Regions from separate parts of the Homo sapiens genome. Here region 1 is linked to region 2. Evidence: fine-mapped expression QTL. Tissue or cell type: whole blood. Region 2 holds a variant in brackets; the other region holds the start of a gene. All regions are shown on one strand. Distances are between the middles of the regions.

Region 1 (8,106 bases), 64 kb after region 2:
GGACTCAAAAGCTGCCGAACTGGGCTTTGGGAATTCAGTGTCACTGCTGCCCTGCCTGACTCATCACTGGAGGCAAGCACTGAGTTCCTTTGGTCTCCTGCCTCTTCCTCCCCTGTGTGCGGGTCCTCTTGGTAACACTGACCTCATAAAAAGGTGATGTGGGTACAAGGAGACTCAGCATTATAAAATGCTTGGAAGCCGCCAAGGGTACACATTGAGCCCTGAGCATCTTTCTGCAGTGGGGATCTTGGCTGGGAGGCAGGGCCTCAGGGAGCAGGCAACAGTGGGGGCAGGTTTGCTGCAGTGCACTCCAGGCCCAGCTGCACCTCACACCTCCTCCTCCCTCCCTCTCTCCCAATACTCTCTGGATCCTGGCTGACTTGACTTGAGGTCGAGCGGGTGGATGTGGGAGGCCAGCCACCTTGCAGGGAAAAGCATCCTGCAGTGCTCAGCCACAGTGACCATTCTGACCTCTCAGCACAGCAGGAACTCAGGCCCCTTGTACTCTTCAGAACCGCTGTACATCTTACCTCTCAAGCTGCCATTTGTAACTATTTCCACCCTCCCTTCCCATCTTCTTTAATCTCCACAGTCCCCTTCCTCATTATCTCACCCAGGGTCTCCATGTTACCTGGTTCCCTGTACTTCTTTCTGTCAAACTATGCTCCTTTACGACTCACTCCTTCCCTAGCTGCATAAATGGCTCTGCCTCCCTAAGCCTTCCTTGGTGGCTCCTCCCCACCTGATCCCTCCCTTCCATGATTCCTTTTTATTCTGAGCAATTGAGTGCATTCATCTATTTGTATTAGTTTACCTGTTCCAACTTCTTCACGCACAAATCCCTGAATCTGCCATGCCTTTCTCACTCATGATGTTTGTTCCCTCTGCTTGAAATGTCCTCCTCCTTGCCTCCCTTCTAAACTCTGCCTTATCTTTCCACACACAGCAGAAATGTCATCCTGACCCTAAGGCTTGCTTCCATCACCTCAAAGACAGATTAAATCTAATAGGACTTTGTTCACCTTTATTAAATTATGGTTTTTTGCTTAGGTCATAGCAACAGCTAGTACTTAGTACTCATGTGTCACACACCTGAGAACTTTATATATGGTAACTCATTAAATCTTCACACCACCCTATGCTATTATCTCCAATTTAACCTGCCCAAGTTCATAGCTAGTCAGTGGAGCAACTAGGATATGAACCCACATAGCATGGCTCTAATCAGATACTACACCACCTCTCCACCCAGCAAACTCCACCTGCAGATCAGGTAGCCTTTGTTCCAGAACTGCACTCAGATCTCTTGGTCCCAAATATCTGGCACACAGCAGGAGTCACTAAATGTGTTCTGAATTTAACTGAAATTTGTTTAGCATCCATTCCCATGATTTCCTCAGACGTATGTTCTGTCTCCCCAAGCTGTCCATGAGATCAAGGGGAAAGAACTAGCTCATTTGTTTTCTTCGCAGGCACACAATCACAATGCAAGATGAGAGGTGGGGAACACCCTGTGAGCTCTAGGGGTGCAGCTGGTGGAAAACTAATTTTGGATTTAAATGTGTCTTGTGTGTGCAACTGACAACGTCTTTTTCACATGCCTGATCTCGACAAGTGTTATCAACAGTTGAGGTAGGTGGAAGGATGTGAGGAAGATAAGAAAACTAGGTGCAGATTGTTTGAGACCTGGCCAAGACCTCAGAGCTAGAAATATCTGAATGAGATTACAACCCACAGGCTCTGAATAAAGCACCTGAAAGCCAGCCTCCTGTCCACTGGTGTGGTCCTGGGCAGCTGTGGCCGTCAGGAAAGGGAGAGCGTTGGGTCAGTTCTTCCCCCAGCAGCCTGGGCAGGGGTGGGAGGCTGGTGAGAGGGCAAAGGGGAGTCTGGCAGGGTGTTCTAGAGAGGAGGCCAACTGAGGAGAGGTATTAAGAGCAGGCCAGCAGGTTCGGAAGACTCTGAGGGCTTCTCAAGTGTTTGGTCACCTTTACCAGACGGGACAGAACACCATGAGAGGTGACACGATTTCCTAGTGGTATGATAATATAGATATGAGGAGTCAGGAAAAACTGGCTTATCTTTCCATCAGTTGGAGGTAGTCAATGTTTCCCTATCATTTTTAACTACCCCATTGCGTTTCTAAAAATCTGTATCTTTATTTCATTGTTCTAATTCAACACAACCGCAGATCGAATTTACTCAACGCCGTGGTAGAGGAAGGATTTTCAGGCTAGGATGAGCTCTGCAGAAGAGAAGCTTTACTTAGTAGAAAAGGCAGTGAATTTCTAGACAGAGACCTGCCCCATCTTACTAACTGGGTAGTCTTCCATATGTCTCTTCACCCCCTGGGTTTATCTCCTCTTCTGTAAAATGGGGATGAAAATGCCCACCTACCCACCTCCAAATGAGTGCTATGGCAATAAGTTGCACGAAGGCCTGTGAGCGCCCAGCCTAGGCTTTCTGCGGATCTGAACGGTCTCCAGGGTCTCTGTATCAAGCTCTTCACCATTCAGGAATGAAACACTGCGGATGTCTGCTCAGAAATGCAGGGAGAACCTCCTCCCACAGGGGACCTCCCGCCCTGCAGCTCATGAAGTGAAGGCTCGCAGATCGCCAGGCTCTTATTGTAGCTCGACAGGGGCGAGGCAGGCTAACTCCGGGGACGCAACAGGGTGGACCTGGAACCCGGGTTTCTTGGCCCAAGGCACCGAAGGCGTAGGGATTGCTGTTCCCGGCCCGCCCCTCGCGGTAGCTGCAACTGGGGGCATGTCCAGCGGCACGGTCTCCGGCGCCCGCAGCCCGGCTCGGGAACCACTTCGCTTACCTGCGGCTCCACCAGCCATCGCTGCTCGGCGCCGCCGGGCGCAGGGCGCGGGGCGCGGAACGCGGAGTACACGGGGATGCGGTCCCGGGTGCTGTAGAGGGTGGCGAAGCGCTCAGCACCCTCCGCGCGCTGACAGATCTTCACGTGGGAATCGGCCGCCAGCCCCGCAGGCGGGGTCCCGGCGTAGAAGAACTTGTCACATTCGCCAAAGCCGGCTTCCTCCTCGCCCACGAGCCGGCCTTCCAGCAGCCCAGCCAGGGCGAAGAGGCTGCCCAGCGCGAGCCAGCGCGCGGTGCCCATGGCGGCCTCTGCGAGCGCGGCGGGGCCGAGCGGCTGGGCTGCCGCGGCGCGAGCTCTGCAGGCTGGGCGGGGAGCGCACTACGCAGCCGAGCAGGGTAGGGAAGGGAAGTCGCAACCTAGGCGCGGCGCTCTGCGGAGCCGGGCGGGGCGGCCCGGGCGGCGGGGGCGGGTCCGCGTCGGGAGGCCGCGCCTCCCTCCCTGAAGATGGCTGCAGAGGCCCAGGGCCGCGCTCCGCGATGCTGACAACGTACCCTGGGCTGCGCCCGGGACTGGAGACGCGGGTCACCTGCCTCCGCGCCGCCTGGTCTCAGCAGTCCGGGGGACGCGCGCTACCAAGAGTGGAGAATCCGAGTGGGGCGGGCCTAGTCCCGGGGCTGGGAAGAGATAGTCGCATGGACTGGGCGCCAAGAAGCCTGCTGATCGCGCGCGCCCCACGGCCGCCCTGGTGATGCAGAGGGGTGGCGTGAGATGCTCGTGGAGCTGCGGCTGGTTCGGAGTGGATGGGCAGAGTTCCCCTCTGAAATTTCATGAAGATGCGTCTCCCACTCTCCACCGAAGTACTCAACGACCAGCACACGCATACAATTTTGATGGAGTTTTTTGTTTTTTGTTATGTTTTTTTAGCTCACCAGAAACTCAGAGAGTAAAGAAATACTGTTAAAGGAAGTTCCTAAACTAGGCAGACAGTATAACCCTGTGTGGTTTTCTTGGTGCAAGTGTTAGAAACAAAACCGATACCAAGCAAGGAAGGAGGCCAGCCAACGTCATTGGTCAACAGGTTGGCCAATTCTTTCCTTCATTTATCCCTCTGAATGCCTAGGTGCCAGCCTGAGATAGGCACTGGATTACCACAGGGGTAAACAAGAGCAGGGCTCCTGCGGTCACAAAGACAGCCTAGTGGGAAAGTTTGTCATTAACCGAGGAAACATGCTATTAAAGGGATAACTAAAAACTGAACACAGATCTGTGAGACCCTGACAGCTACAGGGGTTCAGGATGTAATCCGGGAAGGTTTGCCTGAAGAAGTGGCATCTGAGCTGAGACCTGGAGGATGACATTAACTAGGCAAGGAGGAAAACCATGTGCTAAGTGGTCTCCCACAGAAGGGAACATGATGTATTGGAGGAATTTAAGGAAGGCTAGTGTGGGTAAAGCGCGGAGAACCGCGTGGGGGATGATGGGAAGTGGGGCTAAAGGAGGAGGCAGGGGTCATATTACTCAGGTTATTATAGGCCAGAGGCCTTCAAACACTTTTTGAGAAGGCCCATAATGAGAAAAGTTTGATGAAATAATTCTTATGCTTATGATTGGCATTGCAATTTCATATTTCTGTTCTACTTCACTTTTTTAAAAAAGTGCTGGTGTTGACCCACTAAATTGTTTCTATGAGCCACTAATGGCTCATGACCTGCAGTTTGGAAAAAATATTGTAAATCATGTTGAGGATTTTCATCTTTTAAAGGTGGTGACTCGATTCTTTTTGCTATCAGGGAAGAGACTGGTAGATTGAAGTGGCACAGAATAAATGGGTGGCTCACACCTGTAACCCCAGCACTTTGGGAGGCTGAGGCAGGCGGATCACCTGAGGTCGGGAGTTTGAGACCAGCCTGGCCAACTTGGTGAAACCCGTCTCTACTAAAAACACAAAAAAATTAGCTGGGTGTGGTGGCGGGCACCTGTAATCCCAGCTGCTTGGGAGGCTGAGGCAGGAGAATCGCTTGAACCCAGGAGGCGGAGGTTGCAGTGAGCCAAAATTGTGCCACTGCATTCCAGCCTGGGCAACAGAGCCAGACTTTGTCTCAAAAAAGAAAAGGAAAAGAAAAGAAAAACACCCCATAATTGCCACAATCCAGATAAGAGATGGTAGCTTGGACCAGGATGGTAGGATGGTGGCAGCAGAGATAGGGTCAAGGCAGCTACCCAGGGCCAGGGCCTGTGCTCATCTTACGATGTCATCTGTTTCCCCAGTGTGCCACTACAGGGACTGAGACCAGAGCCTGTTGATTCTGGCCTAAGCTGGCACAGCCAGTGAGTCCTAAGACAGATTTGAAACAGGTCTCTCTGCTTCCCAAGCCTGGCCTTTTCTTTTAACTCACAGCGCATCTGTAAGGTGAGCCCATAAAGAAGGAAGCTCTTCAAGAGATTATACATTGGAACTTAAGAACAAATTTCTTACAGGTTTTAATTCCGGAAAATGTTGACTATGTTTGGTCCCAGAAATGAAACCAAAGTTTGTATCTTAGTTTTTTTAAAAAAAGGAGGGGACACATTTAGTGTGATGTCACAGAAGAGGCTAGACTTGAAGTCCCCTTTGATCTGGATGATGACCCTGATCATCTGGTACTAGTATCTCAGTCATCTCATCCTTGTAGGCTTCAATCAAGTCCTCCCACAGGGACAATGCTGCTCCTGGGATGCTGGGAGGATTATAGGTTTTACAGGATTTTAAAAATATTTACATTATTTTATAAGGTTGAATATAGGGTTCCCCAATGTTGACTTATGATGTCTACCATAAAGATATATAAACACAGTTGAACAACTAGAAATCCATCCCTCTCTTCTCTGAGTTCTTTAAACATTTATCTGTTATGATACTTATCATGGTAGAGTGTTAATAGTCCCTGTATCTGTCTTCTTTATTAAATCATGTGCTCCTAGGGACAAAGGTGGTTGGTGGATCCCAGTGGCTACCACAAAATCTGGAGTGATTAGATGCCAAATATGATTATGTTGTATTTTAACAAATGCAGAAAGTATAATACAATCATCATTGGCCTTTATGACTAAAGTATTTATAAGACTTTAATTCACTTTCTCAAAATTTCTTGATGCCTGCCCGCCACCTCTGATAAGCATAAATATCTCTGCCACTCAGTCCCTGTGGCAGACTTTAGTTTTTTCCCCAGCCCTCTATCAGTGACTGACACACATATAACACTGAACATTTGTACATCCCACAGCCAGGATGATTTTGTTTATTTTCTTTAGTTTATAGTACAAGACAATAGATTTTTCTTCCATGTGCTTGCCTTCCACAGATAAAATATTACTTTTGCAAATTACAAATGTTCTCACCCCAAGATTCTGGAACAACCTACAAGGTAGGAATGCCTTGATCTAATTAAAACATTTGCTAACTGCTGATTTTAGGGGAAAACTGTCTTTAGCAGCATCTGTATGTGTAAAACATGTAGGTCCATCAATAATTCACTGCTGTCTCTACATTTGGTCACTGACTCTCTTCTCACAGGGAAAGAGGTTTCAAACCAGATCCTCTTAGGTCTCTGCACTCAGACCCAGCCAAAGCTGGGTTCCATAGCCTTCAGCAAAGGCTTGAGGATGAAAAGTAATGGTTGATGTGGAATAAAACATTTGACATGCACTTCTGTGGCTTGGTTGGTTCTGTCCAAAGTTATTTAAAAATATGAGCCCAACTAGACACTTCTTTCCCCTGCCTCACTGCTCTGATGATAATTGCATCTCTACCATCACACCTTTGACCAAGCCATCCTCATTTGTCATGCCCAGTTTTTATCCCGTCATCCCTTCTAATCCACTCTCCAGCTGGGATGACTTCCTAACATAAATCTGATGATGTCACCCTACCCTTACAGCACTTAATCACTCTCCATTTACCTTGGGATGCAGCCTGACATACTAGCTGACTTCCATGACCCCAGAGACCTGGCCTTTCCCTCTCAGGCCTCATCTCTCTCCACTCCCACCTTGCCCACACGCTCAGCTTCTTATATTTCCATGAATGCACAGTGTTCTCTCTTTTGTTTTGTTTTTGAGACAGGGTCTCTCTGTCACCCAGGCTGGAGTGCAATGGTGCAGTCACAACTCACTGCAGCCTCAATGTCATGGGTTCAATTGATCATCTCACCTCACCCTCCTTAGTAGCTGCAGCTACAAGCGTGTGCCACCACATCAGCTAATTTTTGTATTGTTTGTAAAGACAGGGTTTTGCTATATTGCCCAGGCTGGTCTGGAACTCCTGAGCTCAAGCGATCCATCTGCCTTGGCCTTCCAAAGTGCTGGGATTACAGATTTGAGCCACTGAACTCAGCCTGATGCTCTCTCTAGTCTTTGAAACTTTGCATCATAAACTACTTCCCTTGTCCTGGAATTCTCACCACCCATTCTCATCCCTTCACTCATTTCATCTAGCTTTTTTTTTTTTCCCAATAGTCTAGCTGACCATCACTTCCTCAATCACTCACCTTCCTGACAAGCATGTCCTCAACTTTACTCCCTCCTCCCCTCTATGAGGTTAAGAGCCCCTTCTAATTATGCCTATTAAGCCAGTAACCCCGTTTCGTAACTGCTACCTTTCCCCTTAGTCATGAACATAGTGCCTACTATAGAGTAAGCATCTAATACAGTGAGTGAGTAGATGAATGAAAGAAACTTTCTTTATGAAACTTCATTTGGGTCTTCATTGCTCTAATTCATTCATTCATCCTCAGAATGTTTTTTGAACATCTACCATGAGCCAGCAATGGCACTAGATGCTGGGTATTTAAGGGAAGCAAAGTTTAGCCTAGTTCCTGCTCTCCTGGCACTCAGGCCAGCACCTCTCAGTGTCATGTGGGCAACCAGAAGAGAAAACACAAGCTAGCTAATTATTTGCAAGTGGCTTTGCCCTAGACTAGGGCAGAGCAAAGCAGAGAAATCTTCATGCAGCTAGTGAGTTCTGTAACATTGAGTTCATGCTATACCCATCTTCATTACAGTGCAAGACTGACACAGACCTTGGCATCACAGAACTTGAAGTATGGTACGGAGGACAGACAGACAAGCAATTACAATACAGCATGAGAAATGCTCTGATAAGGGAAGTACTGTGTGTTGTGTTGCAGAGAAGTATAATTTAGGCGGAGAAGCTCTGGAAAGACAATGGGAATGGTGGAAAATCATACTTAATTATGAGATATGTTGAAACATCATTCACAAACTAGAATAACAATTAATTTCTA
Region 2 (8,106 bases):
AGCTCTTTGAAGGCACAGCTGGCTACAAACCAGTCCCGGAGCCGGCAGCCCAGCCCGGCTCAGCACATCTCAGCCAGAACATAGCTAGGCAGGCCAAGGAATCCTAAGAAGGGGATGATATTTTTAAAATCTTTGGCGTTAGCAAAACTGAAGGTTGCCTGGCCAGTGCTTGTCTCTTTCTTTTTCCCAGCTCAGTGTCTAATTTGTGTATTTCCAGGATTCCGAACCTTTCCCCAGCAGATCAGGTCTAAGTGCAAACGGTCCCTAAGTCACCCATGTTCCTTAGGCTTTTTCCCTCCTTAGAAACAAAAGGTGGACCTTTGCCAAGATTAAATGGCATTCCATTCAAAGCTCCAAGTCTGGCTCAGTTCAACATGCTCATGAGGAGGACTTTGAAAGTGCTATGGATAATTTTCTAACAAGGCACAACTACCCAGCAGGACTGAGACCAAAAAAAGAACCATCTTTTAAATGTAAGTTCTTATCAGCTCTGGAAAAAAAAAAAATAGACGTTATTTAAGCCAAAGCTTAAATTTGGGCTAAAGCCTCAGACTTGAAAAATGCTTGAAGCCAGAATTGGGAGGTGACAGGGGTGTACCAAGGAAGGGTGGGGGTGGGGGAAGCACTGGTTTGTGATTTTACTTCCAGTCTGCGGTCATTGAGTTCATGAGTTTGTACACTCTTGGACCTGTCAGTAAGAAAGTATATATTGAGCATGGATGTTATAGCAAAGCTCAATATACCATTTGGAATCGTATGAGACAGGGTTGTTACCCTTGAGTACTTCACCATCTCACTAAGGAGAGAGGGAACAAAAATAAGCAAAGATCTTTTTAGGGGACTTGGCATATGGTAAGGGCCTCTCAAAGTCACTTCCTGTATTCCCTTTCGGGTGTTGGAGAGAAAAATGATGTGACCGCTAAACGTGTCCCTGGGACAGAGAGGAGCCAAAATTGACCATGGAAAGGGAAAGATCACTGTGGACTTGAGTGGCCTGTGAGACTGGCATGGTAAGAAGACGGCTATGGGTTAGGGAGGCCATCCATGATGAGCTGGTGGAGGAGAGATGGGAGGGCCCATGGTGGAGAGTGGTGAGAGTGAAGGGCAGAAAGGCCAATCAGGGGCCTCCAATTCCAGGCCAAGTGGTTTGGTTTAGCCCAGGTTTCAGATTAGAAGCCAGACTCACTGATGGCTATGGATGTGTGAGTGTGAGTGTGTGTGTGTGTGTGTGTGTGTGTGTTTCTTTTTTGCTTTTATTGGAGTTGATTATATATGTTTAAAGTCTGAACTGGAATGTCTGGGGTCAGGGAACATTTGCTCCTCAATTTTGAATTTAGCTTCAGGCTCCACTTACCCAGTCACTTAATTTGTATGTTTATGTTACCTACCTGTAAAAATTCGAGATTGAGGCCCCTGTCCTTCAGGTAACAGGGAACTAATGGATATTTTTGGAATGATGGAAATGGTATTTCATGATTATCAGGGTTGCCATATAAAATACAGAATGCACAGTTAAATTTGAATTTCAGATAAACAACAAATAATTTTTAATATATGTCCCATATAATAAAAATTATTCATTTTTAAAATTCAAATGTAACAATGTAACTGAGTATCTTGGCGTTTTGTTTTTGCTTTTTGCTAAATCTGGTAATCCGGCTCATGTGGCATATATAAAATTAATGGGAGGAAAGAGAAATGAGATTAAATGAGGAGGTTGTACAATAGTCTCAGAAAGACATGGATAATCCACTCCTTTAACAGGATGGATGGCTGCATTGGAGGTGAGAGACATTCACAAAAAAAGAACGAGCGGAGCATGCAGCTTGGTTAGAGATGGGGAACAAAAGAAGAGAAGTAACCCCAGGGTTACAGAGACACAATTCACACTACAGCTCTGCTGCTTAATTACACAAGATACTCCCAGCCTTGGTTTCCCCATTACCACTTCTAATGTGTCATAAGGAGTAATGAAAATGCCTCATAAATGCTGCACAAATGTCGGTTGTTGTAATAAATGTCCCAGCCCCATTCTTTTCAACACACACTATTACTAAAGCCGTGTCTCTTCCATGCTGTCCTTGTCTAATTATTTTGAACACAAAGGTAAAATGTCCCTTTGTTCCATTTCCCTATTGGCCCACACAGCTCGAACTTGTACAATTCCCTGTTCTCCACATGGGCACTCGCGAACACTCAGAGCTTCCTCTCCTTGGCAAATTCACGGGCCTTTCCTCTGTTTTTCCAGCAAGCCATTGGTAAAAATGTGTATTAGGACAGAGTTGGAGACACAATAAGCCAGAAGCTCTGACCCTCGAGGTGGCCATCAGTCCACGCATAAACACCCTCTGGGTCCTGTCTAATGCACTATACCTGGACTTTGTTTCTCTGTGCCCAAACATCAGACAGAGACCCCCTGTGCAGATAACATGAGGCGATGGGCCCTGATACTGACTACCCCTGCTACTTTCTAGCTCGGTGTCTTGGGGCACATGGTGTAGCTTTTCCTGTAAGATAGTTTGTTATTTACTGTCCTTTTATTTCAATTGCTTTTTCCTTTCTTCAGTGTCAATTTTATGACTAATGGTTACACTAAAATTGTCTAAACCTTTTCTTTCTGGATTACAAATGATGGATGCATAAAATGCTCCCTCTGGCCTGGCTTTCTTCAAGTCACCTTGCCCCTGCCCTCAGGGAGCTCAGCTTCTCATCTGTCTCCAGAACTTCTGCCAGAATGCTTCACCTTTCCTTGGCCTCTGTTGCCACCTGCAGGAGCATTTGGAGGAGGGTTCCAGGACCCTAGATGCCAGAGAGGGAAGCAATAGGCATGTGAAATCTTGAGTTTCACCAGACAAAATCTCCTCACCTCTCTTGAGTTCATGCTGCAATATTTATGTTATTTATTTATGTTTATTTATTTGAGGCAGAGTCTCACTATGCTAGCCAGACTGGCTTCAAACTGTTGAGCTCAAGCGGTCATTGCCACCCACCCCCTCTGCCCCCACCTTAGCTTCCTGAGTAGCTGGGATTATAGGCACGCATAATCATACCCAGCAAAGCTCCAGTATTTAATCAGTTGAGTGACTTTAGGCAAATCACTCCTTTTAGCCTATTTCCTCATCTCTAGAAGAATATTTGATATCCATAAATTTGCTTTGATAGTGATTGTAAATGGGTCATTCATTTATGTATTCACGAAGCAAACAGCATGTTGGATAAAAAGACATGAAAATATAAGAACCTGAGAGAAAAATCACAATATTACAGGGGCATCAGTCAAACCCACAGGAAATTGTCAGTTTGTTTTGATAGACCTATAAACAAAGTGTCACATGATCTAAGTCATGCCTCTTGTCTGGTGCAAGCAGGGAAAGCTTCACAACAGAGGTGACATATTAATTGGACTTGGAAAACCACATAGGAGTTCACCAGGGTTTGGAAGAACACATAGGAGTTCATAAGGCAGAGAGGAAGGGAAAGGACTTTCCAGAAAGGGGAAGCAATAAGCCAAAATGTTTTGACCTGCAGGTTGTTCCCAAGGAGTGACTGAACTCTTGTATCCTGCAGCAAGCAGGCTTGGTAGGAGAGAAACGTTAAGGAGAGAGGAATGTTGCCAATGTCAAGGGAAGGAGTGGTGAGGCTTGGCCCTGGCAGGAGTCTAGTAGGGGGATGAAGAAGAGGAGCTATCAGGCTGCAAAAAGAACATTGAATCAGGATGGGCAGGTCTGCTTCATGGCCCAGACTCTTCCAACCACTCACTATGGGACCTTGGCTAAGTTAACCACCCTCTCTATGCTTCAGTTTCCTCATGTGCAAGTGAAGATAATAACCCCCACCTCGCTGTGTTGTTGCCAGATAACACATGCAAAATCATTAACACAGTGCCTGCCGCAGATGTGCTCAAACAGGTCAGCCACTGGTGTTACCATTAGATATGCAGCTTCAGGGACTTATTTTGTCTCACCA[A/G]TCCTACTTTCCTCGTCAATAAAGTGAGAACGAGAGTGTCTGCCTTGCATGCATCAGAAACTGTGAAGATACAATCAAGTAATACAAGCTGTACAGAATGAGATAATGAAGCCTACATTTTAAAATATAGCAGGCATCTACCAATCATAACGCAGTTTCACTTTCATTACGACGTTTAACTTTTTCTGACAACAACCTTATGAGGTAGGATTATAATGATGTTTATTTTACATGTGATGAAAGTTGGGTTCCTTCATTTAATAGATGCTCCTTGAGCAGGTTCTGTGAACAAGACAAGACCATGGGAATTGTAGTTGAGAAGAGGAAACAGACTGCAGGTACATGCTGGGGGAACCGGGGCTCAGGGCTTCGCCCTGCTATGTCTCTACTCACTCTCTGATGATCTCTCCAAGGGACTGATGGGGCTTTCAGTCCCATGCCTGTATCATGGCAACCCATATTTCTATCTCCAGCCCAGCCCTCTCCAGACCTGTGTGTCTGCCCAATCAATCTCTCCACTTGTTTTTCTAATGAACACCTCAAACCTAAAATATATAACATTAAGCTGTCTTATCCCTCTACCCCAGCATCTTCCAATCTCAGCCAGCAGCATCTCCGTTTTTCCAGCTGCTTGGAGTCATCCCTGATTCCTGTCTTTTTCTCATACCCAAAAAAACAATCAGACAGAAAATCTTATATATATGTAAATCTTCGCCCCGGTTGGAGTGCAATGGCGCAATCTCGGCTCACTGAAACCTCTGCCTCCTGGGTTCACGCTATTCTCTTGCCTCAGCCTCCCGAGTAGGTGGGATTAAGGGTGCACACCATCACACCCAGCTAATGTTTTGTATTTTTATTGATTGATTGATTGACTGAGACAGAGTCTCGCTCTGTCGCCCAGGCTGGAGTGCCGTGGCGCCATCTCGGCTCACTGCAAGCTCTGCCTCCCAGGTTCACACCATTCTCCTGCCACAGCCTCCCGAGTAGCTGGGACTACGGGCACCTGCCACCACTCCCTGCTAATTTTTTTTTTTTTTTTTTTTTAGTAGAGACGGGGTTTCACCGTGTTAGCCAGGATGGTCTCGATCTCCTGACCTCTTGATCCGCTCACCTTGGCCTCCCAAAGTGCTGGGATTACAGGCGTGAGCCACCGCGCCCGGCCTTTTATCCTACTTTCAAAAAACATACCCAGAGTCTGAGTGTTTCTCCTTACCTCCAGCGCCACTCCATGGCCCGAGCTCTGTTTCACCTGGTTCTCACCTGGATCGCGGCCTCCAATTTGCGCAGTGACCCCTACAGTCTATTCTCCAAACAGCAGCTGGCGTGGTCATTATGAAAAGCAATGTCCACCTGCTGCTCAAAAACCCACGAATGGCTCCCCATTTCTTTCCCATTAAAGCCAAAGTCTAAAACATTTACAAAGCGTTATATGATCAGTTCCTACCTGCTTTCCTTATGTTGGAGGCTGTGAAGCTCCTTAATATATAAACAGTTCTCAGGAGAAGGAATAAAAGCACAGCCACCTCCTCAGCAGAGCCAGTTTACACTCTGCTAGAGACAAGAGGAGCTGGGACCTTCTCCCCTAACCCTTACTGCATATGTGAGAGAAGCCAGACCTGCTGGATCGACTGGAAATGCCCAGTGCCTGAGACGGGGAGGAAAGAGAAGCCGTGGGGAGGAAAAGACTGTAAACCTAAAAGGCATTGAAGTCCCACCTCACCAGTTAGGCAGGGAGGAGAAAGAGGCCTAGGGCGCTCGGGAACTTGGAATAAGGTTGCCCTCTGCGGGTGAAACTGTGAAATATCTCACAGTGGAGGAGGGCGGAGACTGTTCGCAGAGGGGCCCGGCGAAAACGTCACCCTACTGGAGGTACGAACGCATCGCAGACTGGGGGCGCCCGAGCGCATCCCAGACGCGAGGGCAAAGGCCCAGGAGGACTGTGGGGCTCTCGGAAGTATCCGATCACCTTGCGAGGAGTCCGCCGGCTGTCCGAGCCTGATGTCACTGCAACTTCGATTCCTCCGACGCCCCTACTCTTACTTCCCAGTCTTCAGGCAACTTCTCCGCTTCGGCCTCCCCTAGGCCTTGGCCCCAGAGAGGGGACGCACTCCACAGGTGGATTCGCACGTGTGGGCCCTCGGCAGCACTTTCTCGTGCAAATTAACAGGTGGCCCTCATTGTGGAAGCACCGCCCAGCCTTTCCCGGGGAGGTCACCAGGGCGAGGCCGCTCAAGGTCTGCAGGCGCCCGGCGTTAGCGGGATCCTCCCCGCGCACTGGTCCGAGGAGGCCAGGAGAGGGCGAACCAGTCCCCGACCAGCGGCCCTTCCGGGGGTGGGCTCTGACCCCACCGAGCGGTTAGAGGGTCCAGGAGCTCCAAAGGGTAGGGCAGAATTGGGTAGATGAGGGTGCATTTTTCTGGGAGGAGTCTAAGGCGTCGCTGACTCTCAAAGGCCCGCATCCGGAGAAAGGGAAAGAGCCCCGTCCCGGGAGGAAGGACGAGAGGCTGGCCCGCGGGAAGGAGCCCTGGCAGTCCCTCCTGGCCTAGGTCTACCTCTTTGATCTCACCGTCCCCGTGGCGGCGAGTGCCACCAAAGATGAGAGAGGCCAGCAGGTATCGGGAGAGAGCTGAGGGGTCGGCGCCGGCGGGACCCCAGATTGGAGCCGCCGTCGTCGGACGGGCAGACCCTGCTGTAATAGCTCCCGGCCGGCCACGGTAGGCAGGTGGGGCCCACCGCGAGTCCTAGTGAAAAACACCTTCCTCTTGATTCTCTCAAAGGAACCCGAGCCCTGGGAAGGGACATCAAGGCGCTCCCGAGACTCCGGAGACGGCCAACAGCCCCAAAAGAGAGTACTCGGCTATCCAGCCGCCCTTATCCAAGCGGAGAATCTCTCTCCACCTCCGCCCTCCCGGGACTCAAAGTTGTTTGTGGAGCCTCCAGGTTTCCTTGTAGATGGGCACGATATGCACTGTGTGCGCGCGCGCGCACACACACACACACACACACACACACACACACACACACGTATATGTATTTTTCCAGTGGCCACTGCAGGATTGCCAGCTTTCGGAAATGAGCATCCGCTCTCTCTCTCGGGACTGGGCGTGGGGTTCACCGAAAGGAGAGGAAGAGACCTTGCGTTTGCGCTGGGCCTGCTCGATGCCAGGCCATTCTAGGCTTCTGTCTATCCTGGTTTCTGGTCTGTGCGTTGTGGGTAGCAGCATTGGCGTATTACGCCGGAGGGAGCAGGCTGAGCGAGGCTCCAGAAGGTGCGCAATAGCCGGAGAGGAAAGGGCGATGCTGTCACCTAGCCCCCTCCCTGAGACTCCATTCAGCCCAGAAAAAGGAGCTGCTTTCTCCCCCATCTACCCTAGGAGAAAATAAACGGTCGCTGGCATTTTCCTGCGTCTTTTAATTTTGCCAGAACTGTTTTGGGTTGGCTATTGTGGGCCAGGATGGAGGCCTTCTCCTCCCGGGAGCAAACCTGCCCACGCCCAGGCCGGCAGTGGAGTCAGCCTTGCCCCAGCCTGCCCTCCAGGGAAACAATGCCCCTTTGTCCCTCGCCCTCCCGGGGCTGATACAGCCCCTCCCCTTAGCTTAGGGCTCCCTCCCGTTAGAGCATTCCAATGATTGCCACAAGTCACACTTTTCTTTGAGGTCTCTGCCTGGGAAGAAAACAAAGCAGCCCTCCTAATCACACGGAGGGAGTGGAACTTTTCCTGCCCTCTGACTATGTGCCAGCCTTGGCTCCTCCCTGAAGCCCTGTCTAGAGGGCTTATTAGGTCACTTATGTTTTGTACCTCGTGTGAAGTCCCACAATCAGTAGATTATAGAGGGGAGCACAAACCCAGCAGTGTCTGACATAGAGAAATTACACATACATACATACACACATACATACATACATACACACACACACATACACACATACATATACATACATACATACATACATACACACACATACATACACACATACATACACACATACACATACATACATACATACATATATACATACATATATATAGTCTTTCCACCACCCAGGATTGAAAATTAATGCTGTTTTTGACATTGTCCGTTATCCACCCAAACCCTCCAAAAAGGCTGGCTGGCATTTGCTTGGCTCTAGTTCTACCT

The links. PIP is the estimated chance that this variant, and not a neighbour inherited with it, causes the effect.
Region 1: it holds the start of ENDOD1, and the variant in region 2 is fine-mapped to the expression of ENDOD1 in whole blood (TOPMed, PIP above 0.99).

Annotation. Positions count from the first base shown.
Region 1 is chr11:95,084,946-95,093,051 of GRCh38, reverse strand. It overlaps ENDOD1 (endonuclease domain containing 1), which reads right to left and starts at 3,206. Exons shown (of 2, transcript NM_015036.3): 1 at 2,825-3,206. The coding sequence starts at 3,124. RefSeq lists silencers at 1-127, 2,955-3,384 and enhancers at 1-127, 3,395-3,454, 3,525-3,804.
Region 2 is chr11:95,149,329-95,157,434 of GRCh38, reverse strand. LNCRNA-IUR (lncRNA imatinib upregulated) reads right to left here and starts at 6,896. Exons shown (of 3, transcript NR_110303.1): 1 at 5,687-6,896. RefSeq lists a silencer at 5,667-5,776 and enhancers at 6,297-6,426, 6,027-6,568, 6,569-7,110. The variant A/G (reference allele first, on the strand shown) is at 3,967.